Linked DNA regions of Homo sapiens: all the other regions are linked to region 1. Evidence: fine-mapped expression QTL. A gene starts in region 1. Each other region holds a variant in brackets. All regions are shown on one strand. Distances are from middle to middle.

Region 1 (5,000 bases):
AGTCTGGAAGTATATACACTGAATTATTAATAATGGTCACCACTGGAGAGTAAAAACAAGGACACTGTCTTTCCTACTGCTACACTATTTGCATTTCTTGTTTTTCCTACTTCTATACTACACGCATTAATTAATTTTATCCGTTTTAATTTATGTAATATTTTTCCCCAAGGACTGTTTCTGTACATAACTAAAAACAGCAAAACTTTATTTCAAAATGCTACCTCCTGAATAAAGCATGTTACCTACATTTAAACGTCTCTAGGTATAATGCATTCAAATGATAGACAGTCTTGGGGATTCTTACCAAGCCCGTGGGCCACTGACATTCGAACAATGAATAGTACTGCCACAAACAGGTTGCACAATGGTGTCTGCCTCCTTCTGAAAAATCATCTTGAGAAACAAGTTGCCTTTCCAGCAGTCTGTTGAACTCTTGTTTGCCAGTGGGCAGCAACAGCCACAGGTAAGAGATCTGCCCTCGGCAAAGGCCCTGCTGAAATATCCTTGCTTCCCTGATCTGACATTAGCTCTTCTTATCTTGTTTACCCTGCTGGAAGAAGAGAAACACTGCCCGATAAGAAAAAACTTCTGGTATCACTGTTGGCTTCCTCACTCCCTCACCCCTCTCTGCAGGTGCGCAGAGCTGAGATCACACTGCCACAAGCTGCTGGGCCCTGACAAGTGTTCCCACCAAATGCAGCTGTAGCCAGCACAGCTTTATCCATTGCAGTGGAAAAAGACCCCCAGAGGAACTGCCTGGAGTGAGATTTACCTAAACAAATAGCTAGGACATAAATGGCAAATTTCTTGAGCACTAGAAAGAGAAGTAAGTTTAAGAAGTCACTTGTGTGCTTAAAAAAAAAAAATTGCATAGCATCTTTCTACAGTGTATTCAGTCCTGTAGACAAATATTTCTACACAGCTGGAGAATCACTGACAGAAGATTTTTAAGAATATTCACAAGGGAACCTAAACCACACAACTTCCTCCAAGAAATCCTAAGTTACATCAGCTGCTTTAAGCAGTGAAATCCATACAGCCTGTGAGCAACCCAACAGAGAAGTGGGCTATTATATTGGCAGCAAGGAATCCAGAACAATGAATTACATTTCTAAACAATGTAGCAGAGGGTGAAGAAAAGAAACCTAAATCTCTAAGATGAAAATCTGCAGTGAAAAAGACCATGATATTTTACTAACTTTTCAGTTCAGGGTTAGCAATATAGTTTTGAAGGCAATAAAATATAGGGCAGTCTCACGAGTCACAAAGAAAGCAACTCAGTTCAAATCAAATCTGTTATAGGAAAGTTTAAGTTCAGATTCTTAGACATTAATTGAAAATTAAGTAAATTAGTAAGCAAACACTTCATGGTAACATCAACTGAACCTCCACGTTAAAGAAAAAAAAAAATCACTAAATAAAATCACTACATATCAGTTTAACAATCTCTTTAGCAGATAATTTGAAAGGCTCAATTGTCCCCCCTCTGCAGGGCATGTTGGTGGTTTTGTGCAGCTTGCTTAAAAAATTATGTGCCTTTATTGTACTGAAGAAATTCCGAGAGAAGCACAACCTACTCACTGATGATAACAACACAACCATTTTTCACATTCCTCCCCTCCAAAGTCCACCAAAGCACTTGGCTTTAGACAAATGCTGAGAGTTTAGCTGATGTTAAGAACAGAAACGTTTCTATCAGCTGGTTCACAGTTTAGGTTCTTCCCTACTTTATTCAAGGCAAACCTCCTGGTAAAATGAGTGAGAAGAACATATGTGATTTTATCCTTTCTAAACTATGTAATATTTCCAACAGTTATGTTCCTTAAAACCCCCAATGGGACCTGCCTCATTTTCTCAATAGCATAAATAACGTAGAAAAGGTTTTAATTTTGCAAAGCACATCTTTTTTCAACCCTATAGTTGCAATTAAAATATGCTTCCTGGGTTTACATTTGCAAACACTGCAGCTAGGTGGGACATAATTGTGAACAATACATAATTGTCCCATACAAAGAAACCTCCCAGAAACCATATTCACCCACAAAATGTCAACATTTCTTTCTTCACAAAGAAGAATCAAAGGGGAATCGAAGTCATATTACAGGGAAAGAGTGGAGTTCACAAGGGACAAGCAGAGCAAGTTTTGAAATCAAAGACAGGCAACAGGCGTCAACCCCGTCCACACGCACAATAAGAACCCAGCATTGGGTAGACACAGCAACACTTTGTACGAGACCCTCTTACCGGCACAGGGCCCGGGCTCTCTGCTTCCACTTCGCCCTGAGCTGCATCCTTGTATTGCAGGGGGGACTCAATCACCAGTTCCTTTTTGACACTTCTACTACTTGTCCTGCATTTATCAGCCTGCATTCTCGGCTGAAAACGCAAGTCAGAAAGTCTGCAACTGGAACAGCTGCGAGTCCCTGGCCGTGCAAGGCACAGGCATGCCAGTGGTCCAAGGAAGGAAAGGAAACTGGCTTCCCAGGCACAAGTGGTCAGCCCCGCTGGCTGGGTCTGCAGAGCCTGTGGGGTGGGAAGGCATGACAGCAAAGGCCAGCCTCCAGGGGTGTTACTACTCCATGCAAAAGGGGAGGCTCCTACTTGCTGGCCAAAGGAAAACAAACTCCAAGCTGAACAATACACAGTGTACTGCCTCTCTGATAAAGACCGGCTTTATTGTGTCTGTTCCACACAGCGTGGGCCAAATCAATCGGAATCAAAATACTGCAGTGTTTAAAAGAAAACCAGTCACAGTTAGACTCCTTCATAATTACCTTAAATCTGAAGCTCGTGGAGCTTAAGAGACAGCAAGGTTGTCTGCTTGTTCTAAAATTCTTCCAGTTTTGGAATGCTTTCATTTGTGTTATGGTTAAAAACCAAATGCCTGGCTGATGATTAAAGCAGGGAAGAGCTACCAGCAAGTATGTTCCCATAGCCTGCACCTCGTGGATACAGGTGGAGGAAATGAGTTTCACCCCGCATGACAGACCACAGCATGAAACACTTAATTTATGTACTATTTGATGCCAGAAAGATGAGGTCATCAAAACATTTTCATGGGATACCACATATCATAGTAAATGCATTTATTAAACAGAATATTACTTTAAGTCCAGATGTGTGGGTATCAGAAGGTACCCCCAGTACTAGGTGCTGAGAGGATCATACTAAAAGTATAAGGTAGAGTATCTCTCCCTTCAAAGAACTTCACATCTAGCTGGGAAGGCAAGAAGAGCAGACATCATAAATGACAAATTAATAAAATTAAGAGAGAGATGCACAAAAGCACGGGAAAATAGCTGGATCACCAACCTACGGTTCAATGGTGGTTTAGTAGCACCCAAAATATGTGTTCCTAAAAGTCTGTATTTTTATTATTTCCTCACATTTAACAGTGGAGTCTTTTTTACCTCTTGGGAAAAATTAAAACAGAGGTATTAAGGGATTTGTCTAAAAGTTATGTAGAAATGAACATTAAAGGGGGGATCAAATATTACTCTGTACTTCATGGATACCGCAGAGCTTTTCCTAGTTACTCTGAGTATTTCCTGGACATCAGGGAAGATTTAGTAACAGTAGACAACAAGCAGCAGCAGCAGCAGCAGCCGTAGCAGTAGCAGTAACAGCAGTAGCAGCAGCAATAGTAGTAGTAGTAGTAGTAGTAGTAGTAGTAGTAGTAGTAGTAGTAGTAGCAGCAGCGGCGGCAGCAGCAGCAGCAGTATTCAGTCAGTCAACAACGAGAGTAGTTATCATGTAGCAACAATAGGTGCCAGAGGAACTCTACCCAGGGAAATAACATAAACTATTATACAAGTCACAGGTAAAAGTCTCCCACTTTCCAGACAAAGGAACGCAGCCAGGAGGGCTCAGAGGAGGCAGTGGGGAGAACTGAGATGCCACCCAGTCCTCGCACAGCCGCCTCCCTCTCCTAGCACCTGCTGCAGCTGCTCTACTTCAAGAGTGAAGCTGAAGCTGGGTCTCTGCCACTTGAACACCAGGAACCCTTCTGAGTGTGAATATCAATTATGTAACGATCTCAAAGGATCAATGAGTCCATCAAATAAATTAATGGCTTCTATAATTTTTTTTAAACTACCCAATCTCTCAACCTTGGGTAGTCTTTCAGGGTTAATAGAAGTCCCCCTACCAAATCTGTGTTCCAAAATAATATTATCTATAAATTTTAAAAATCTTTCTTTGTAAAGTTACAACAGAAAAAACCCAGTAAGAAAAAACTCTCACTTACCTATAGAGTCGAAATTATAGTAAAGTAAAAACTTAGGAATGTCCTACAAATCAAAGAAAGGATGAAGCCACAAGCACAAAACAGACTAACTGAGCCTTAGTAAAGGACAGCCCAACCAACAACTCAGAAACCTTTTTGAGATGGTTCAGGAAGTTCTAAATAGTCCAGTTCTTCCTCAAATCCCCATCGCCATTAAGCCATCAGAATGTCTGGGCATTAATAAGAGAAATGCTATTCTATTTGTTATTGTTGTTGTTTGAGACAGGGTCTTGCTCTGTAGTCCAGGCTGAGTGCAGGGGCTCGATCATGGCTCACTGCAGTCTTGACCTCCTGGAGTCAAGGATCTTCCTGCCTAAGCCCCTCAAGTAGCAGGAACTAGAGGTGTGAGCCACTGTGTTCAGCCTACCCTATTTGTTGGGTCAAAATACCCTGGTATTCTGTAAGGAATGAGAAATGAACTTTAAGATATTTATTTGACAAACACTGTAAGTGCTGGCTATGGCCCATGCCTGTTCAAGCCCTACAAAGATTGTTTATTTAATCTTCATAACTCTATGTAATACTGTTATCCTCATTTGACAGATGAGGAAACTGATGCCCAGAGACGTTAAATACTTGCAGAACGTTATACAGAGAGCAGGGGCAATATGGATCCAGTGTACACACGCTTAACCATGATACTATGTTCAAACTGCTAAAAGGCACAATACCAATCACCAGTCAGCAATTAAAGACAGCAGCATCTGGCTTT
Region 2 (5,212 bases), 110 kb after region 1:
CAGAAAGCAGGTAAATTGGGAGAGAGCGGGGTGAAAAGAGTGACAGGGCGACATCACTCTGCGGAAATTTCCCAGGAGGAAGGGGACAGCGATGGGGACAGGATCTTGGGTGGCGGGGAGGGGTCTGGGAGTTGCAGCCCCTCCAGGACCTTCTCTTCTCCCCTGTCCAACTCCCTCCCGCCGGCCCCACCTCTTGATTCCGCGGACCCAGCAGGGTCGGCCGCTCTGCCTCAGCCCTGCCGACTAAGAGGCGCCCGGCCCGGGGCCCGCAGCTGCCTGCGCCCCCGCCATCCTCCCCCGGCCCGCGGTCGTCCCGCACTCACCAGGAGCACGGAGCCGCGCACCACCTCAGACACGCTCTGCCGCAGCTCGGCCGCCGTGCCCGGCTTACTCAGCGCCCGGGTGAACTTCCGAGTCTCCGCCGAGGCGGGGAGCAGCGGCGGCTGCGACATCCTCCTGCCCCCGCCGCCTCCGCCTCCGCCTGCTCCCGCGGCCCGGCCCGGCCGCGCGGCCGCCAGGTGCGCCCTCGGCGCCCGGCCCGCTCCGCCCGCCGCTCCCGGCGCCGCCGCCGCCTGCTCCCCCCGCTGCTCGCCGCGAGTCCGGCCGCCGCAGCCCAGGCCGCGCCCTCTGCACCGTGTCACGCCCCAAGGCGCCCCCCTCGGCGTCCGCGGCCCCCCGCGATCGCAGCAGCGCCCGGGCTCGCTCCGGGCGACCGTGCGTGTGGCGGCGGCGGCTCCCCCATGCCACCAGCCTCCCTCGGCGACCACTCGCCGGGCCGCCTCCTCGGGGCGGGGTGTCCGGCGCGGCGCGGGCGGGGCGGGGCGCCCGGACGGCGGAGGAGGGGCCGCCGCGGCGGGACGGCGGGCCAGGCAGGTCGGCGCGGCCCGGCGCTGGAGCTAGGCGGCCGGACTGGCAGGGGCGGCGTGCCGCGCGGGACCCTCACTGGGGAAGGTGGGGGGTCGGGGCCGCCTCCGCCCCGGGCCGCACGTCCGAAGACCGGAGGAGGGGACTGCGCACGCCACCAAGAGGGCGCACAGCCGAGGCTGGACGATGCGCGGTTTCGGAGCAGGGTTTCCTGCCCAGGGAGCCCGGCTGCGCTCGAGGGGACCCCGAAGTCACCGGCAGGGTCGGAGCTCGGTGCACCACGCCCCCCCTCTGCGCCCGGGGCCTCTGCGGGGACAGAGGTCTCAGGAAAGTAGCCTTTATTTATGTGGCACCGATCGGAACCCGCGGCCGGCCAGGCGGACCTGGACGGAGCGTCCCTGCTCGGAACCTGGCGCGGGGCGCCGCGCGCTCGTGTGGCGCCTCGGCCTCCCCACCGTTCAGTCCCCGGAGGCACGGAGCTCGCGGCGGGACGATGACGGTTGGGCCGGGCCAGGCGTGGGAGACTCCCAGACTCCGGCCCGCCGGGACGGCCAGCTGCGTCACCTTGGACGTGGGCAATACTTCGGAGCCTCGGTTATGTCGCCTGTAACCTGAGGACAACGGCCTGGAAGGGGCTCAGGTGACACGGCGGCCCTCACTGGGGCCGATTTAGCCGGTCTGCCGCCCCTCCGCGCCGGACCGCCAGGCGGGGTACCAGGGAAACTGCGATGCGCCGGCTTGCGAGCCCACCGTGACGCAGAGCTGGCGGCCGCTAGCGACAGCCACCCTGTGAGGGACTTTCCCCCCAATACCCTAACCGCTTTCCTGTCCCTAAGGGCCCGCTCCCGCCCCGGCTCCGTTTCTGTCTCTCTGAGGAAGCCCGGCGCAGCCTAACCCTCACAGGGCCGCGGAGAGGGCGCGCCAGGCGGGGATTTGCGCCAGGCCCGCGGCGCATGCTCAGTGGTTGGGGACTGGGCGGGTACCCCGGGCGGGGAGCCTGACTGAACGGCGGCTCTGCTGATTGGTCGGGCTGCTCACGCCACGCCCGTTGCCTTCCGATGGACAGTTCCTTACCTGCCGGGTCGGCCTCCGCAGAGAGTGGTGGTCTTGAAAACCCAGTTTTGGGAGAATACCTGCCGCGCCTCCCGCCCAAATACCCAGAGGTTTCATAGCCGCCATCGCTGCGGTGGAGGAGGCCGCCTGTTGCGTCCCACCCCACCAGAAAGCCTAACACTGGCCTGAAGCGTAATCTTAAAGTGGTAGGGGAAAATACCGATCTAGCGCAGAGAGCAAAACACCTCCGTTCTGGGTTTAATGGGCAGGTCTGGAGGTGAGGTATGCCGTCCGCACTCAATAATTACTTGCAGGATCGGATTGTTTCTCCAGTGGGTGGGGACTGCAGGATGTAGCATTGAGTGAGCCTGGCAGATTGAAAGATAAAACAAGGGTGATGATAAAAACAATTACACACTAACCCATTTCCTCCTCCGTGAAATGAGGGAATGGCCCAGACATTTTCCAGACCTCTTCTGTCCTAAGAGTGGAGCTGGGTGACAGAGCAGGTGCAAGCCGGCCTTTCCCTGCCTCCCCGGGGAACGCACTCTGTTCGGTGAGAGCAACTCAGCTCGCATTGACTCCTTTCAGCTGCAGGAGTGTGGCCGTTCAGTTCTCATTTGAACTGTTGACAACAGTTGTCTTCTGAGAATCATGAGTTAGAGCCTCCCTTTAGGCTTCTGACTCCCTCAAAAGTACCAGACAACACAAACTTTTCCCCTCTTGTTACCTTGGCTCTCTAAGCTGTATCTACTTCTATACAAGGCGAACAATTTTGTCTTTTTAAATTAAAAACAACAACAAAAGCACCTAAGGTTGTAGGGTTTTATATTCTTTTTTCTTTTCTTTTTTTAAGAGCTATATGATTACAGTAG[AGTGTGTGT/A]GTGTGTGTGTGTGTGTGTGTGTGTGTGTAGTCTAAAGAACAAAATTTCAACAAATGGTTTTAAAGATCTAATTGGCTTCTATTAGCAATGCATGAACCAGGCAGCATTCTGACTACAAAATAGACGGGAGCTCTTGTGGGAATGGAAGAACAGCTGGGTTTTGTTAAGGTAACTTAAGCAGGAACAAGGGAAAAGCATAGTGCCGAAAGCACATCGGGTAACTTCAGGTTACTCTCCTTTATGGGTTAAAGCAGAGGGGGCTGCCTTAGCTGGCTCAGGCTGACTGGGCCCCGTTTGACTGGTTGCTGTGAATCTCCTGGTTTTTGGAAAACTGGCCCTTTTGGGGATTTTCCTGTTTTTTAAAATCTCTGTTTAGTTACGTGGCACCTAACACAGTGGCTTCATTTTAGTCTGGTCTGTTGGGGCCTAGTTCAGGAGCTCAGTCCAAGACAATGACCTACCATAAATTTTATTTAAATATATGTATATCTGGAAAGTGAAGAATTCCCCAAACCTACCAATTTTATCCATATCTCTACCACTCCTAAATTCTGTACTTACTTGCTGATTCAGTATATTCTAGAATTGGCAGATTTTCATTTAGGAAGCAGAGAACAACAGACAATGTGCCAACAGTAGTCACTGGCAATGTCTAACCAAGCACAGGTTCTGACAGACAAGGCGGCATGGAAACGTGAACTAAGCCCAGGAAGATGGACCCAGCAACCCAGAGTGGAGCCTCTTCTTCCTGGTGAAGTGCTGTTGATAACAAATGGGACATTCCTAGTGTTAAAGTTTCAGCAGAAACTTGGTCCCTACTGTTCTGGGTTGAATTGTAGTCCCCCAAAAGATATATTGAAGTTCCAAACCCAGTACCTGTGAATGTGGCCTTATTGGAAATAGGTCTTTGCACATGTAACCAACTTAAGGTGAGGTCCTACTGGAATAGGTGGGCCCTAATTCAGTATGAATGGTTGTTTGTTTGTTTGTTTGTTTGTTTGTTTTGACAGAGCCTCACTCTGTTGCCCAGGCTGGAGTGCTGTGGTGCAGTCTCAGCTCACTGCAGCCTCTGCCTCCCAGGAGGCTGGGATTACAGGCACCTGTCACCACACCTGGCTAATTTTTTGTATTTTTAGTAGAGAAGGGGTTTTGCCATGTTGGCCAGGCTGAGGTCAGGTCGAACTCCTGACCTCAGGTGATCCGCCCATCTCAGCCTCCCAAGGTGCTGGGATTACAGGCGTGAGCCACCACGCCCAGCCTGAATGGTGTCTTTATAAGAAGAGACACAAATACATACACAAAGGAAAAATACTATGTGACAACAAAGGTAGGAAGGAGAATACTGCACACCTGCAAGCCACAGAACAGCAAGGATCACTGGGAACCACCAGAAACTGGAAGAGGCAAGGAAGGATTCTTCCCTAAAGTCATCAGAGGGAGCATGGCCTGCTGACACCTTGACTTCAGAATTCTAGCCTCTAGAACAGTGACAGAAGAAATTCTGTTGTTTTAAGTTTGTGGAACTTTTACAGCAGTCCTGGGAAACCAACATGCTGGCCAAAGGCTATTTTTAAAATTTCCACCAGAGTGGGCCTGGAATTGTGTGAATTCTTTTGGCATCACTATTTCCTGGAGAGCAGTCATACCTACAGAGGGGCAGAGCATCAGCCCAAAAGAGGGTGCTACCTGGCTACCTGGGATGAGGCTGACCTCTGGCTGGACTGGGTGGATGGTGTCTCAGGTACGGTAGAAGATACATCCACCTACATTAGCTTGATGGAGTAACCTCATCTTTGTTTTTCCAAACTATAGGAAGAAAGCTTTTCTTTCTGTTGAAAATTATACTAGTAGGTAGTGGAGATGAAATATAATTGCAGCCAGTTCTGAAATTTGCATGTAAATGACTGTACTACACCCAAATTTATAATTCAAGCATTACTCATGTTTAATGATAACCTCTTACTACATCATTTCCTTGTTAAGTTTGCTTTAGGATTTGTATGTGTCTTAATAACATATAATTAGTTTAAAATCTTTTCTGGATATATCTTGAAAGAGTATATCTGTTTTTAGCAAAAATAACAAGTGACCCATAAAAAGGAGGCACTCCTGTGCACTGTCACAGGGAAGTGTGAAAGGGGACTTTCGTTCTTTATTTTATCCTTGCACTGATTGAATTTTATTTATTTATTTATTTTGAGACAGATTATTGCTCTGTTGTCCAGGAAGGAGAGCAGTGGTGCCATCATAGCTCGCTGCAGCCTTGAACTCCTGGGCTCAAGCAATCCTCCCACCTCACCCTGCCAAGTAGCTCAGAGGACAGGTGCATGCCACCACGCCCACCTAATTTTTTTTACTATTTGTTGATACAGGGTCTCACTATGTTGCCCAGGCTGGTATCAAACTTCTGA
Region 3 (5,000 bases), 70 kb after region 1:
GAACATAGAGGACATCATGTTAAATGAAGTAAGCCAGGCAAAGAAAGGCTAATACTACATGACCTCACTTAGATGTAGACTCTAAAAAAGTCAAACTTACAGAAGTAGAGAGTAGAATGGTGGTTACCAGGGGCTGGGGGTGGGGTTTGGAGAGATGTTGGTAAAAAGATACAAAATTTCAGTTAGCTAGGGGGAATACAGTATAAACATGGTGACTACAGTAAATAAATAGCTGAGAGTAGAACTGAGTTCTCACCACAGAAAATGTTAAGTATGTGAAGTATTGCATGTTACTTAGCTTGATTGAACCATTCCAATTTTAAAACATCATGTTGTATACCCTAAATATACGGAATTTTTGTCAAAAAATGCATATATAAAAAGAGATGCCTCACCAGCTTAATCATCTTTTTAAAAACAAAACAAAACAAAACAAAAAAAACAGCAGCCGGGTGCGGTGGCTCACACCTGTAATCCCAGCACTTTGAGAGGCTGAGGCGGGCGGATCATGAGGTCAGGAGATTGAGACTATTCTGGCTAACACGGTGAATCCCCATCTCTACTAAAAATACAAAAAAAAAAAAAAATTAGCCGGGTTTGATGGCACGTGCCTGTAGTCCCAGCTACTCAGGAGACTGAGGCAGGAGAATGGCGTGAACCCGGGAGGCGGAGCTTACAGTAAGCTGAGATTGTGCCACTGCACTCCAGCCTGGGTGACAGAGTGAGACTCAGTCTCAAAAAAAAAAAAAAACCAGCATCACTGTGTCTAGAATTCACAAGACAACCAGGAAATATCTTAAGCAACGACAGAAAAGGCAGAAATGTATGTCCCAACACTGAGCCCAGGCTCAGCACGGGGCAGAACAAGCCGAGCGACCTCCCACCTGGCATATCTTCACTTGGAAGGTGGGACGCACACCAACAGGTTTTGCTGGAATGATGCCCTCCTGCTTTGAGTAGGAGGATCCTTAACTCCAGGGCCATAACACATTGCACAACCAAGGGCTTGGCCTGGGCTTTGCCACTCACCCATGAGATTAACAGAGGAAGTAGTTTGTTGGTTTTGAGGTTTTCAAAAGGAGGAAGGATTTTGCGCCCAGTATGCTAACCTCCTTAGCTGCGCTCCGGAAAACAGCACTTAAAGGGTTGCCCAACTTGTGGGACTTGTCTCGACAGTAAACACCTCATAGAACATGCCTGGTTATGAGGGGGCACACCTGACAGGAAAGTCCAGGACTCACAGATGAGGGGCCTTGAAGAGCCACTGTGAATCACTGCTGTGTTATCACATACTGTGTGTAAGTGCATGGGTGTAAAATAAACACACACAGCCTGGAAACCTGTTTTATTCAGAGTATAAGCTCAGATGTCAACATCTTTCTCTGCCTAGATCTATCACTTACTTTACTTTCATTCTTACATCTAACTCCTGACCTCTTAATCCTCCTGAAGACATCACCAGAAATGTCTCATACTTCATGCCTGCGTTTAAGGTACAAAGTGTAGCTTTGGATAGGTTTTTAAAAGGTTCCTGTTTAGGTTATGCTCCAAAGGAAAGCCCATCTTGACACTTCCTCTCCCATAAGGATGAGCGTGAAGAGAGCCAAAGTTGGACGAGTCCAGGTTTAATCTCCTATCTCTGATGATTAAAAGACAAAATATTTATTTAAAACACGGCCAAACAGCCACTGACATCTGTGCAATTTTTGGTGGCTATGTTGGACTATTCATGGGGGTCAAATAAATAAAAATGGCCAAGCCTATGAGTAAACTTTTCCTCATGGTAAAGTTTCCCAAGATAATGTGCTAATTGAAATACACGCCAGCTGACCCTAGAAGTAGGGCCTATTTAGAAAATTTTAAAAGTACATATTTTTTATTTCCTCAGAAACACAGCCTTTTCTGTGTATAGATTCAGGCTCTCTCTGGATGGGGCAGAGAACCACAGGCTGAGGAGTATCAGCTGCCATCGCAGCACATAAGCACGTCTGTTACCATCAGGGTCCCCAGGTTAGAATAAGGAAATTGTCTTTCTACTTTTAAACATTCTGGGGCCTAAGAACATCTTCTTAGTCTCATTTATTTTCACTCCTTAGGTGTTGTCTGAAAATAATGAAAGTCAAACTTTTTCTGAGAATCAGTGGTTCTAATC[CT/C]TTTTTTTTTTTTTTTTTTGAGACGGAGTCTCGCCCAGTCGCCTAGGCTGGAGTGCAGTGGTGCCATCCTGGCTCTCTGTAACCTCTGCCTCCCACCTTCAAGCCATTCTCCTGCCTCAGCCTCCTGAGTAGCTGGGACTACAGGTGCACACCACTATGCCCAGCTAATTTTTTTTTTAATTTTTAGTAGAGACGGGGTTTCACCATGTTAGCCAGGCCGGTCTTGAACTCCTGACTTCAGGCGATCCACCCACCTCGGCCTCCCAAAGTGCTGGGATTACAGGCAGGAGCTACTGCGCCTGGCCCTAATCTTGAAGCATCAGCCTCAAGCAACCACCTTTCCAGGAAAGTGTCCCTGGATACAAACTCAATGTATTGTTCTCCCTCCCTTTCACTGGCCTTTTACAACTCAATTCCTGCCCTCCTGTATAATACCCAACAGCAGAGCTCCTAGGAGTCAAATCCTGGGCTCTGACACAAAGTTTCACCCTGGGCAGGCCTCCAGTTTGGGGGCAGCACCAGGGACCTCAATGTCAGCAAAATCACGAATCAAACACTGATGTCCGATGACAGTTCTCACTGAGAACATATTCCATTGTATTTTAAAGTTATGGAAAATCTTCATACGGTGTTTAAAAGTGTTCATGTGCTGCTTCTTGGTTTACAGTTTTATCTGTTTTGTTTTGTTTTGTTTTGTTTCTGCCGGCTCAAAGCCAACAGCAGGATTTTCACCAAGTTTCCAGTTTTGGAGTAAGAAGCACGCCTGAAGACAGCCAACCTGGAGACAGCCTGCGTGCACCCCAGCGGAGCTTCCCCAGTTACCATTCCCCTCTGCTACTGCTCATCTTCTCATCACTCTTATTTGTCCCTACTCTAGAAAAGAAAATAAGAAGGAATTTTGAATAATGCATGCTCTGTGTTCATCAGTGTTCATTAACGTAACAAGCACATAACTAAAAATACAATAATAGGGCTTATCACGGAAAGCAAGGGTGGCCTGGCTCACCCACTCCACTCCCAGCCCTGCTCCTCGGAGGCAATTCCCTTCCATATTTTGGTGCTTCTTCCAGTGTTTGCTCTCCTCCTGCTGCCCCCATAACTGTAACATACAGATTTCTCAATTTTATCCTTTCCAAATATTTTCAACTGACTTTCTGCTATGACAAATGGGGACAGCTCACATGCAACACTCCCATCCTCACAGTGCCACTATTTCTCATTCTCTACAGTTCTCTTTGTAACTGTAAGCACTAATATACTTGTACCTTTATTATTCCATCACTGACCACTGCTCGGGACTTCCCACTTTGTTAGGTAAAGACTTCACACCAAAAAGCGAAATTCAAATCCCTGACATTAAGCTCTGCTACTAATAAACAGCAAAGCTTAATAAGCTGAATAATCATAGCTAAGTACAAATAATGAATATAATAATAATAAACAGCTGAATAAGTCTGACTGTGGAGTTCGTGTTTAATTTTTTGTTTGGTTATTTTCTGTATGGCTAAGAATGGAAAGAAAATGAATAGTTAAAAATATGTTTTGGCATTGTACAGACTTCAATCAATCACTCTGTTTTCTGGACCCAACAGAATCATCAATGACTACCCTTACTCAATTCTCTCATTACTCAAGAATTTTGGAGATGAAACCCAACTGTGAAATGAAAATTCTTAAATGGTAATACTGTTCATCTGAGTATGTTTACAGTACTTCTGAATCCACATACCTTATCACCCCTCACCTTCCAACCTCAGAATATCTGGCCAAAAGGAGGTAGCAGGCAATGCTGAAGGCTGCTCCTTGGACAGGGGCAGTGTGGTCAGCCTTGTCATCGGGAGGCATGGTGTGGCCATGGAGTAAGGACATCTTAGAAAAAGACAACTCTAGCTGGGCATGGTGGCAAACGCCTGTAGTCCCAGCTACAAAAAAAGGAAAAGAAAAGAAAAGAAAAAGACAAATCTGGACTGAGGGAGTGTGTTAAAGGCTACTGATGTAACAGCTGAAATTTTTTTTTTTAAACAGGGTCTTGCTCTGTTACCCAGGCTGGAGTGCAAAAGCACAATCATGGCTCGCTGCAGCCTCAACCTCTAGGCTCAAGTGATTCTCCTGCCTCCCACCCACATAGCTGGGACCACAGGTGTGCGCCACAGCGTTCAGCTAATTTTCTACAATTTTTTTGTAGAGACAGGGTTTCACCATGTTGCCCAGGCTGGTCTTGAACTCCTGGACTCAAAAGATACTCCCACCTCAGTCTCCTAAAGTGTTGGGATTACAGGAATGAGCAACCACACCCAGCCAATAGCTAAATTTTTGAAAGCAGGACACATACTGTATTATCAGATAATGATCCCTAACATACAAAACTGGATTTCATTAGGAAATGATTGATCTTTCCAGATAATGAATGCTGCAGGTTCTCTCCTAGGCCAACATCTTCATGACATCTAAAAATACAAGAAGCAATTATGCTATAGATTTAAAAAATTGAAATATGATATGTGAAAATACTGAAAATAACCTATGGAGCTATCAAAGTTTATGGAGGATATTTAGGTTTCAACATGTAAGATGACACCTGCTTGCATGTTGGATCCTGTCTAAAATTTCAAGCCATGGACAGCAAGTAAAAACAAATCAAAAATGGAAAGACACATAGCATGTGTAGTTTATCTATGTCACAGAGCAAAAATAACACTTTGGTAATGCTTTAATTAAAATCAAGTACCTAGAGTTCATTCCATATTTCAGGCCTGTAGGAGAAAAAAAAAGCAAAACCACTTCCCCTTGCAGTGATACACGAATGGAAATATCCGAGACAGCGAAACCTGAATCAGCTACAAACAG
Region 4 (5,000 bases), 130 kb before region 1:
CCAATTCAAGTTACCACCACAAAACCCATTTGCAGTGGGAAGAGCTGCTGCATATCCGAGTGGATTAAGGTTATTTATTCACATGTGGACCATTCATTTAATTTTTGTTTTCTGTGTTTCCTAAATGATTATCATTGGAGGTGCAGCACTGGTGTACTTATGATTTTTTAAAAAGTGCTTCAAAGTTTAAGCATTTATTTCAACCAATAGTGAGTTAACCTCTGTGTTATAGAAATTATCTGAGCAAAGGAGGTCCAGCAGGTTCTGTTTATCAGTGGGGATTGAATTTCTGCTGCTAAATGGCAAAGAAAAACTAAAAATAACAAACTCCTGGTTTTGTTCCAATCCCTTTCTGCAGAACTAGTCAAAGCCCCAACAGAAAAGATGTTAAAAAATCAAGTACTGTAGCCTTAAAGGTGTCACTCAATTTGCATTCTACAGCTAAGTGTAGAACTCAGAAGTAGCATTTTATGGCTACCAACTCCGTGTGGCAGACTGACATTATCTAAATTAAGCCTGGGATTTTATCAAGACAGACTATCTTCATAACATTTTTTATTTTTTTTATTTTTTTTTTGAGATAGGGTCTTGTTCTGTCACCCAGGCTGGAGTGCAGTGGCACAGTCTTAGCTCACTGCAACCTCAGCCCCCCAGGTTCAAGTGATTTCATGTCTCAGCCTCCCCAGTAGCTGGGATTACATGTGTGTGCCAATAAGCCTGACTAGTTTTTGTATTTTTAGTAGAGACGGGGTTTCACCATGTTGGCCAGGCTGGTCTCGAACTCCTGGTCTCAAGTGATCCACCTGCTGCTTGGCCACCAGCAGCTTGGCCTCCCAAAGTGTTGGGATTACAGGCATGAGCCACCATGCCCAGCCAATCTTCATAACACTTAAACTGCACCCGGACAATCTTCATAATGCCCACGTTGCTGGGTCAGAGGTGTGGGAAGCTGCTTTGTTTTGGTTCCTCAGGTGTCTTACTTTGAACTATTATTAATACAATGCATTGGGAACACTGCCTTTACTGTTGGCCTGTATTTTAAAAAGAGGTGTGAAAAATCACAGCGAATGGAATTTATTATTAGACATGATGGAAGGATATTAATAACCATGTATTAAAGACAGCACTTGGAATAACAAATAATTGTTGAGATAAAACAATAACTAGCTGTGTCATGCTTGGAGAAGAGATGGAACAATTTAGAGAACACAATGCTAGCAGAAATGGGTATTATAAATGATCTCATCAATTTTTCACGTGCTGTATGGTTGATATCTTTCAGGTGTTCTGCTTTGAGAAACCCTTAAGAAGATAAAGCACTTAAATTACTAGAAACAGCACACAATGCCTTGTCCCCTCTGCTGACTGATAAAAGTAAATTAAAAATATGCTCCCCTGTTCTGGCAGAATCTCTTTTGTAAAGTTAGAAAGCCCCAAAGTTAGGAAGGCAAGATGAACAAAAAGGGTCTTGGCTTGCAAGTGAAGCAACCTCATAAAGCAGACTTCAACCTGATTAAATCTTACCATTGTCTACAGAAATTCCAAGCACACTTGATATCTTTCTCACACTGAAAACACAGAAAAAGTCACTTTGTTATTGGATGCTTTTCCACACCCTCACAAATTGATTCATGGGCTTTATGTTTTCACAGTAGTGCAAGGATTAACATCCATTCAGAGCTGGAATGTCAGAATGTGGACGCTTGATCAATTACATGCACAGGATCAGAAGGGGTGAAAGAAATCCATCCCGAATGTTCTCAGAGTTGCAGGGGAAAGCCAACATTAAGTCGGTTCTAGGTGATGAATCCAAATTTTATGTTTAGAATTCTTGAGAACGGCTGGCTATGGACCCAGCCGAGTTTTGTTTTAGGGATGCAGAAAGGGTCAGGCACTTTTAGGTTTAGTGCTGTAGTTGAGCACGTTCCACATTGTGTCACTCCCAAATGCTGAGGACGCTCCTCCAAGGAAGGGAACTGTGCCATGAGCTCTTCATCCTACTTGCTTTGAGCTAGAAGAAAAATTGAGTTGGTGATGTGGTAGGTGTGGCCTAGGGCTCTCCCCTCTGAGATGGCACATGAGATGGCTGGCTGTTACGATGGCATGTCATGGGACTTACTGTGGTTAAAAGTGAGAGAGTTATCCAGGCTGCCCAGCTGCTGCAATCTGGCATGCATCATTCCTGTTCTGTTACGGGAAACAGGCAATGTCTGAGACTTTCGATCATGAACTATGGGTCCCAACCCCTCCTGGTTCCTGCAACATGAGTGAAATGGGATAGAAGCAAAAGTTAGACGTGTTACACTGCAGCGAGACGGGGAGTGTTAGTGAAGCCAGAACATGGCACGAGGGAGATGGCCATGCACTGACTGAACACAGTGGAGCAGCCAGAGACACAGACAGGCGGCAGCTCCTGCACACTTCACGGCAAAGCACCTGATGATCCAGAAGCAAAAATCAGGCCAAAGCAGGGACCTTTTTATTTTTAGAAAGTACTTTAGAGATGCTACTCTGAAAAAAGTGAGCATCACTCCAATGCAGTACTAATGGTTAGTGTTCTGACGACTGTCAAAACGTCACTAATCTTTTTGGATTATATATGTTCTGAAAAAGCAAAAGACATG[TA/T]TTTTTTTTAATTAAAAAATGCATTGGAAGACACAGAGAACAAACATGCAAAGGAAGGGATTATATGAGTTTTAACACCTTTATTCTTACCCAAGCAGGAAGGAGAAGAGCCACACACTTTGTTAAACTTGTCAGCAGTCAAGTAGAGAAAACAGAAGAGTGATTTGGGTTAGCAATCAAACAGCTAACTTCCTGCTGTGTACCATCACCAGAGCAGATGAAAATGAGACCAGGGCTGCAATGACACCTGTCCCCTGTCCCGGAGCCAACCGTCCCCCTCACTGTGTTATTGTGTGTAGGAGAACAGGGACATGCATGGACTATCATCGACTGCATGCTGCTGGGTGACTTCAAAGTGACAATAAGAAGGCACAGTGTTCATCAAACTCGACCACCGTGGATGGCAAACATGTACAAGGTTCACAGTCTAGTTCAGGATCTTTTTCACATGCAGCAGAGAACCATGGCAATTTTTGTATAGAGCAGAGCATATCTTTCCACAGTGCATGGAGCAAAGTCACATCATCTCCACTCCTGTTTTCCTTGGCCCATCTATTTTTAAGGCAGTCCACACTTTTATATGCAAATATATACAGGGTGCTTATGAAGTAGGAAGATTTTCTTTTAAGAAGTTAAATTTATATCCACTGAAAAAAATACGTTAACCATTTCACAAAACCCGATTCTAAAACATTTTGTTGGGACAGAAATCTTCAGCTTCTCACATTCACTGTTTTAAGCTGTGAGGCATTTTATTCTACTTGGCACAATATTCTCCAAATGCCATCTTGTGACGTAGGTGTCACTGCAAAAAGTGAAGCTAGCCCAGCACAGTGCCTTTCTGTGACAGAATTTACTGTTTGCCCATCTTCATGGGACAAAGTCAGGGAGAATCCAAGTCAAGGTAGAAGACGTTGCTGGTATAAGGACACCTTGTATATACTTGCATTTAGTACTCCAAAACTCAAATATAAAATTACTGTTGTGATAAAAAATAAAACAGTTAAGATTAGAGAACTTTAAGTGCTACCACATTTCAATGAAAAATAGAAAATATTAATAGGAGGAAAATGCAAAAATTCTAAATTTGCTTCTTTTAAAAAGAAAACATACATGTTTACTTCTTAACATAAAATGTAATTCTGAAAATTTCTCAAATATCCCCAGAAAAGAACAATGTTAACAGAAAAAGAAAATCTTCACAAAGAGGAAGTCTACTAAAAATCTCTGGCCTATTTCATCACTATAAGACAAAATTGTCGATATATAGAGAAACAAACCTCAATGACAATTACATTTTTAAGTTTTTCTTAAAACATGTTTACTTATAATAAAGCTGTTAAAAACAACAGTAAAAAAATATAATACTTAGACCAAGACCCCACTAATACAATAACACAGAATGGCTCACAACACAGAAAAAAACAAACAGACAATCTGAATGGCAGTGGGGCAGGAGGAAGAACTTGGTAAGGACAAGAGGTGCTGCGAAGAAACGCCCCCAAAGAAGGCGTGTCCAGCCACACAGCTGCAAGGAGTTTCTAGGAGGCTGGTTCTGCACAGGAAAGTGGGAGTGACGCTACTCACCAGGGAGTTCTGGCCAAGAACATGGAGCGTTTACCAACTAGTCAAGAGTAGGAAGAGAAAAGGCTCCATTTTAGAGAAGGTTTGTGGAAGTCCACACAAATTTGGGATGGACTGAAAACATTCTTTCATTAAGAAAGAAGAAGAGTGGTTAGGTGAGATTTTAGTATCTTTGTAGTTGGGAGCAGGAACAGTCAAAATGACCTTGGAAAGTCAAACAGAGGAAGAGAAACCACTGAGGAAGGAACATAGGAAGAAGAACTGGGGAGAAGAGGATGGGAAGGAGACAGAACAGAGAAGGAGGGGGAGTTTGGACGAGAGGATGGAAGGGTAGACACAGCCCGCTAAAGGAATGCTTTCCAAGAGATAACACGTGAGGTGAAATGAGACTTCGCCGGTAGGAATGCAGACCAAAGACACTGCCAGGCTCTGCGGTGGCAATCCAAGGGCCTGCCATCAGTCCCCATGGCCGCTTCCATGAACCCCAACTGCCAACCGCCACTGATGACCAATCCCACACAATCAGAGCCAGGCATCACAGAAAACAACACGTTTCGAATGAAAACGCCCCACAGTACCTGGCTATGTATCGCTTCCCCATGTACTGGAACTGGTGCAGGCAGACTCTGCAGGCAAGATGAAAAATTATTAGGGAAATGCAAAGATAAAATTATTTTCGGGACGTTATTTATCTGTTAACAATAACAAATTCAATAAACATTATGTCTAGTACCAGCATAAGTCACATCCTCATTCATTCAGAATGGTTTTTGGGAGTCCTCTGGAAAGTG
Region 5 (5,000 bases), 79 kb before region 1:
CTAGCAAAGAAAATCAGTTTCAAAGGTTCAGAGTGAACTCTTTAGGATGTAGCAGCAAAACAGCATAGAGGTTAAGAACACAGACCCTCGGGTGAGACTGACTTGGGGAAGCTGCCGGCCCTGTGATGTTGCACACATTCCTTGCTCCCTCTTTGCCTCATTGTTATGGGTTGAATTGTGTCCTCCAAAAGCATGGTGAAGTCCCAACCCTTTGTACCTATAAATGTGACCTATTTGGAAACAGGGTCTCTGCAGATGCAATCAGTTAAGATGAGGTCACTAGGCTTGGCCCTGATGCTTTATCACTAGTGTTCTAAGAAGGGAATTTAGACAGAGACACACAGGAAGAGGACCATGTGAGGCCAGAGGCAGAGTGGAGCAATGCTGCCACAAGCTAAGCAACAACTGGTGCCAGAAACTTCCAAGTTAGAAACCTTGCAAGTTATTTATCTTAGACTATTACCACCCCAAGCCAAGACCCAGTCATCGTATCTCTTTGGCACGACTTGAATTTGTCCCCTTCTTCCTGTTTGCACTTGCAGTGGCTTTGCTGAGTCCTTTCTCACCTCTTGACAAGGTTCCTCAACTGTTTCCTCCCCACCATAGGCTCATCCTTACCCAGTCCACCCTTCACAGCACCACCCAAAACATCCTCTACAGAATTCAAATTAACTGGTTATTCTTCTGATTTTCACCCCATCTTTCTTCTCAAGGGTTTGAGGAAATGCTTCACGCTCATTTGCCATCCCCTCTGATGTCTAAATCGAGCAACCTAAGTGACTGCTCCCCTGTTCCTCCCTCCCCACTACACAGCTTCTATTTTTCAGGTGTGGAAATAAGACCTTGAAACTCACTTCCGAAAGTCTGCAAGTAACTTGAGCATGTCATCATTGGATAGCTTATTGCTGTCTTGCCTGTAGATGGCAGAAAATCTGGCATTTTTGTCAAGATTTCCAGATGCATCCTTAAACAATGTCCTGAAATGGCAAAGCAACATTTCTAAACTGGGTTTCCAAAACACCAAAATCAATTCATTATTTAAGTCTAGTTTCTATGAGAAGTCTAATTATTATTCCATTGGCTATAGCCAACAGAAATCTCATTATCTAAAAACATGGAAAACATCTATGGGGATGAGGACAACTAAATCAATTTACATAGAAAACAGTTCCAGCCAATGGCTTGTGCTTAGGAAACAATATACACAAGTCAAATGCTTAACAAGTAGAGTCAAGAGATAAAGATCACCCCAGGCCTCACTGGATTGCCCTGACTTCCAGCTGGAGGCATGTGGTTGGGTCCTTGAATCCCAGCTCTGCAGCTAACACTACCGTGCACCCTGCCAGTTCCAGGTAGCACTTCTCCAGACAGTGTCTATCCTCTCTGTGACTCTACCAAATGATTTTTTCAAAATCTGGGCTTATGTATTTCTCAGTTTTACACATTCAAATCCTCTTTGTCTCTGAACAACAAACAGAATAGGCCTATTGACCCATCCATGCACCTATCTATATCGATTTAAAAGGTATAAAAGGTGTTCCTTACCTTGCTGCCCAAGCAAATGGCATTCTATACTGTCCTAGTCTTTGGCATGCCTGCTTGGCATTCTTCAGCACCTTCTGGGCCACCTTGAAGACATGAGAATAAAGCTATGAGATACTGCATCTCACTGAAAGAACTGTGACCTCAAGAGCCATCCTTACATGCTCACTAAATAAGTCCTTACCATAGCATTGGATGCATAGAAAAGCACATCATACAGTAATGAATATGGCTGGATTCACACTCTGTGCAGAGTACTTTATTTAACGCATTCTCTAGCAGTGATTCTCAAAGAATACAGAACGAAGACTTTCCAAAATCCATGTCTCTTCTTTGGTCTTTACGGGCAACAAACATGCTGTTTCAGAGGTTTTCATACATCTTTATGACTAAGTGCTACTTATTATAAGTCTACTGAGTTATTAATAATTACTATTTGGTATCCATATCAAAATATATCACATTATTAGGATTGAAATGAGAACACTAATTAAAATACTAAGCTTTCACAGCTCCTAAAGCGCACTAGCTTATGCTGATTCCCACAATATAAGGGATAAGATATTAAGATACTGACTTCAGTTAGGCTGGGGTTCTCAATGCTATATTCTTGCTTTCTAAACATGAATTACTGCTATTTCTACTTCCTAATGATCAATTTTGGTTTGTTGTTGATTGATTGATTAATTCACAGTGTACAATGAAGCTTATTTGCTTTTAGCCTAAGGCAGACCTATTATTAATCATCTATACCCCTATTGCTAAAAAAGATAATGCTTAATTTTTCCAAATTTGTCTGTACTGTGATAGTGCTTTGTCATCAATGCAAAGTTTGATTGTCTCAGAGTTACAGTGAAGGGTCTTTTACATTACTTA[A/AT]TTTTTTTTTTTTTTTTTTTACTGAAGGGTCTTTTACATAAGTATATCAAAGTCAAACCAATTTTGGGAAATGTACTCCAAAACCAAAGTGTGCTATAGCATCAGCATCACTGTAGAAATGCAGAGTCTCAGGCCTTGCCCCAAACTTCCTGGATCAGAACGTGCGTTCTGACAAGACCTCCGGTGATCTGTGTGTACCATCAGCCACAGGAAGGATCTAGAAGGATCCAGAAGGATCTAGATGACAGAGCTGTCTGTCTCTAAGTCACACTGAATCCAGCTGTATGACTCTGTAGGCCATCAAACCTCTCTGAGCTCCACTATCCACACCTGAAAATGGGGGCTAGGCTATACTTTTCATGATCCCTTTCAGTTGCAAAACTTTATAATCCTACCATAATCATGCTGTAGGAACTGCTGCCTTCATGAGTAACCTGGAAAATACATCCTAATTGGAAGAGATGTCAGGGAATCATCTAGGACCTCCCCCCTTCTCCAATGAGGTATGTTCTTGCCTCCCTGGGTGGGGCGACTTAGTGGGGTCTTAGGTGTATGAGTTATAGGGTACAATGGCCTACCTAGCTGCAGGGTCAATTTACTTAAACATTTTCAGGTTCAAGATTTTTTGGTTCTAACAATGATGAATATGTTGTGGAGTAAAATGCAGTAATTTCATAAAATTTAAAGCTAAAACATAAAACATCAATAAGCCTTTTCTGCAGTGAATGAGGACTTAGCTCTCGGACATATGAAGGGAGCAAATAGAACACAGTATGTGTGAAAGTCAGAGTAAGAAACTTATTTTTTCCCTTTGGGCTTTTTTCCCCTTCTTTTTCTTTTTAAAACCTCTATTCACAGGAGATACCTACAGAGACTTTTCATAAAAATTTCCTCCAAAATGAAAATTTACTCTAAATGATGTTCTAGACCATCTTGGAAAACATGAAGAAACAACTTTGACAGACAGAAAAAAATCATCTCACTGTAACATCTCTGCCAAAACTGTGCTAAAGTAAGATAGTTGAGCCTTAATTCCTGCTTTAATTGAATGCTTTGGAGGTGGCAGAAAAGTAAATGCATGAATAATGTACACATGGATGAGCTTTACATTCCATAAAAAAATGAAGAAAAAGCAGACTTCAGCAGATGCTCAGTGGACATGGAGGAGTGTGCAGAGGTAAGTTTAGCCTACAGTGATATGTGATTTTTACACCAATATGAGCTGCCAAATTTCAAACCATGCATGCGGCAGGCAGAAGTAACAAAGTTGCTGTGGATGGGCCTTGGAAATGTGTTGCATACACGGTCGGGGGAGGAGATCTTATATTGGGCCTTCATTGATTATTGATCAAAACATAAAAGAGCTAAAAGAGCTTCTCATCCAAGGTTTTACAGACTTGGTTTAAAAAAATAAAACAGCTTCTCTCCAGAGACCAAACTTTACACAGCTTTCATCAGCCAAAAAGGCTTACTGTTGGAACCAATGTGCCTGGGTAAATGGGCTTTTACTTGACTGGGGCTGTAATAAATGACGATGTCTTCTGGGCTTTCTGTGATTTATGGTGCCCACAGCACTGACTCATACATGATCTGTTTGATCCTAACACTGTCCCTATGAGGAAGGCAGAGGCAAGAAGTAACATCATCCTTCATGCACAGAAGGAACATATGGAGGCCATGAGAGGTGATGTGATTTGTCCAAAGGACCCAGATGAGTTAAGCATGCAGCACCCAGGTCTTCTGACTCCAAAATCCATTTCTCAATGGCCATCGTGCATCCTGTGGACACAGCTGTGATGCATGGGCGCCCATAGAGGTGAAGATAGGAAGCTCTGAATCCAACTTAGTAAACTTCACTCACAGCCTCTGGGGTATCCACTCCTACTGCTGACCAGTCCTTGTCAGTGAATTCAGGCCTCTCAGATGACCACACAATTTTTTTTTTAAATAACTAAAAATATGTAAAACTGGCAAGGATAATAGCACTTAACAGATTACACTAACCAGGTAGCACAAGGTGCTACGAAGTGGCAGTCAAGTGCCCCCTGGCAGCTCCAGCCATGAGACACTGAGCAGATCACTAAGCCTTGGTGAGCCTCAGTGTCCTGAAATATGAAAGCACATCTTGGACTAGATGACCTCTAATATTTAATAATTCTATGGTATGTCCATGCCTAGGCACTTCCCAAGTAATGAACACTACTTTGAAAAAAACCAAACATACATCATGTATGTTTTCTTTCCATCTTCCACCTAAAACTCTGCCCCTTCTAGCAAAAACCAAGTGGACCTGAATCACTGACACTGCTGGCCAGGTCATCTGAGCCAAGGGCATCTCCTGGTCTCCAGCCTCATATATAAGTGTAAGTGGACCAAAATAGAATTTCAGAACCCAAGAGGCAAATTAACAGATAGAAGAAACTCTATTTGAATATCATACATGTACCTTCTAACACAGAAAGTTTACTATTAAGCTGGTAATTCCTTTGCAAATTATTTTAGGATGTCAGAACTGTCTAGTCAAGTGGATCATTTTATTTACACATAGGACTACATTTCCTTCAAAATCAAGACATAAAGTT

What was found.
Region 2: its variant is fine-mapped to the expression of DOCK9 in whole blood (INTERVAL, PIP above 0.99).
Region 3: its variant is fine-mapped to the expression of DOCK9 in whole blood (INTERVAL, PIP above 0.99).
Region 4: its variant is fine-mapped to the expression of DOCK9 in blood mononuclear cells (TOPMed, PIP 0.96).
Region 5: its variant is fine-mapped to the expression of DOCK9 in whole blood (INTERVAL, PIP above 0.99).

What each region holds. Positions count from the first base shown.
Region 1 is chr13:98,975,537-98,980,536 of GRCh38, forward strand. DOCK9 (dedicator of cytokinesis 9) reads right to left here and starts at 2,528. Exons shown (of 53, transcript NM_001366683.2): 1 at 2,248-2,528. The coding sequence starts at 2,373.
Region 2 is chr13:99,085,900-99,091,111 of GRCh38, forward strand. It overlaps DOCK9-DT (DOCK9 divergent transcript), which reads left to right and starts at 824. Exons shown (of 1, transcript NR_047482.1): 1 at 824-2,726. It also overlaps a transcript of DOCK9 not described here. RefSeq lists silencers at 156-635, 676-985, 1,076-1,135, 1,716-1,945 and enhancers at 826-1,387, 1,950-2,509. The variant AGTGTGTGT/A (reference allele first, on the strand shown) is at 2,793.
Region 3 is chr13:99,045,365-99,050,364 of GRCh38, forward strand. It overlaps a transcript of DOCK9 not described here. Among named protein-coding and RNA genes, the nearest start is that of DOCK9-DT, 39 kb to the right of the region's middle. The variant CT/C (reference allele first, on the strand shown) is at 2,153.
Region 4 is chr13:98,843,805-98,848,804 of GRCh38, forward strand. DOCK9 (dedicator of cytokinesis 9) reads right to left here. Exons shown (of 53, transcript NM_001366683.2): 37 at 4,788-4,835; 38 at 2,120-2,256. Among named protein-coding and RNA genes, the nearest start is that of DOCK9-AS1, 14 kb to the left of the region's middle. The variant TA/T (reference allele first, on the strand shown) is at 2,625.
Region 5 is chr13:98,896,634-98,901,633 of GRCh38, forward strand. It overlaps DOCK9 (dedicator of cytokinesis 9), which reads right to left. Exons shown (of 53, transcript NM_001366683.2): 14 at 1,546-1,628; 15 at 855-977. Among named protein-coding and RNA genes, the nearest start is that of DOCK9-AS1, 67 kb to the left of the region's middle. The variant A/AT (reference allele first, on the strand shown) is at 2,419.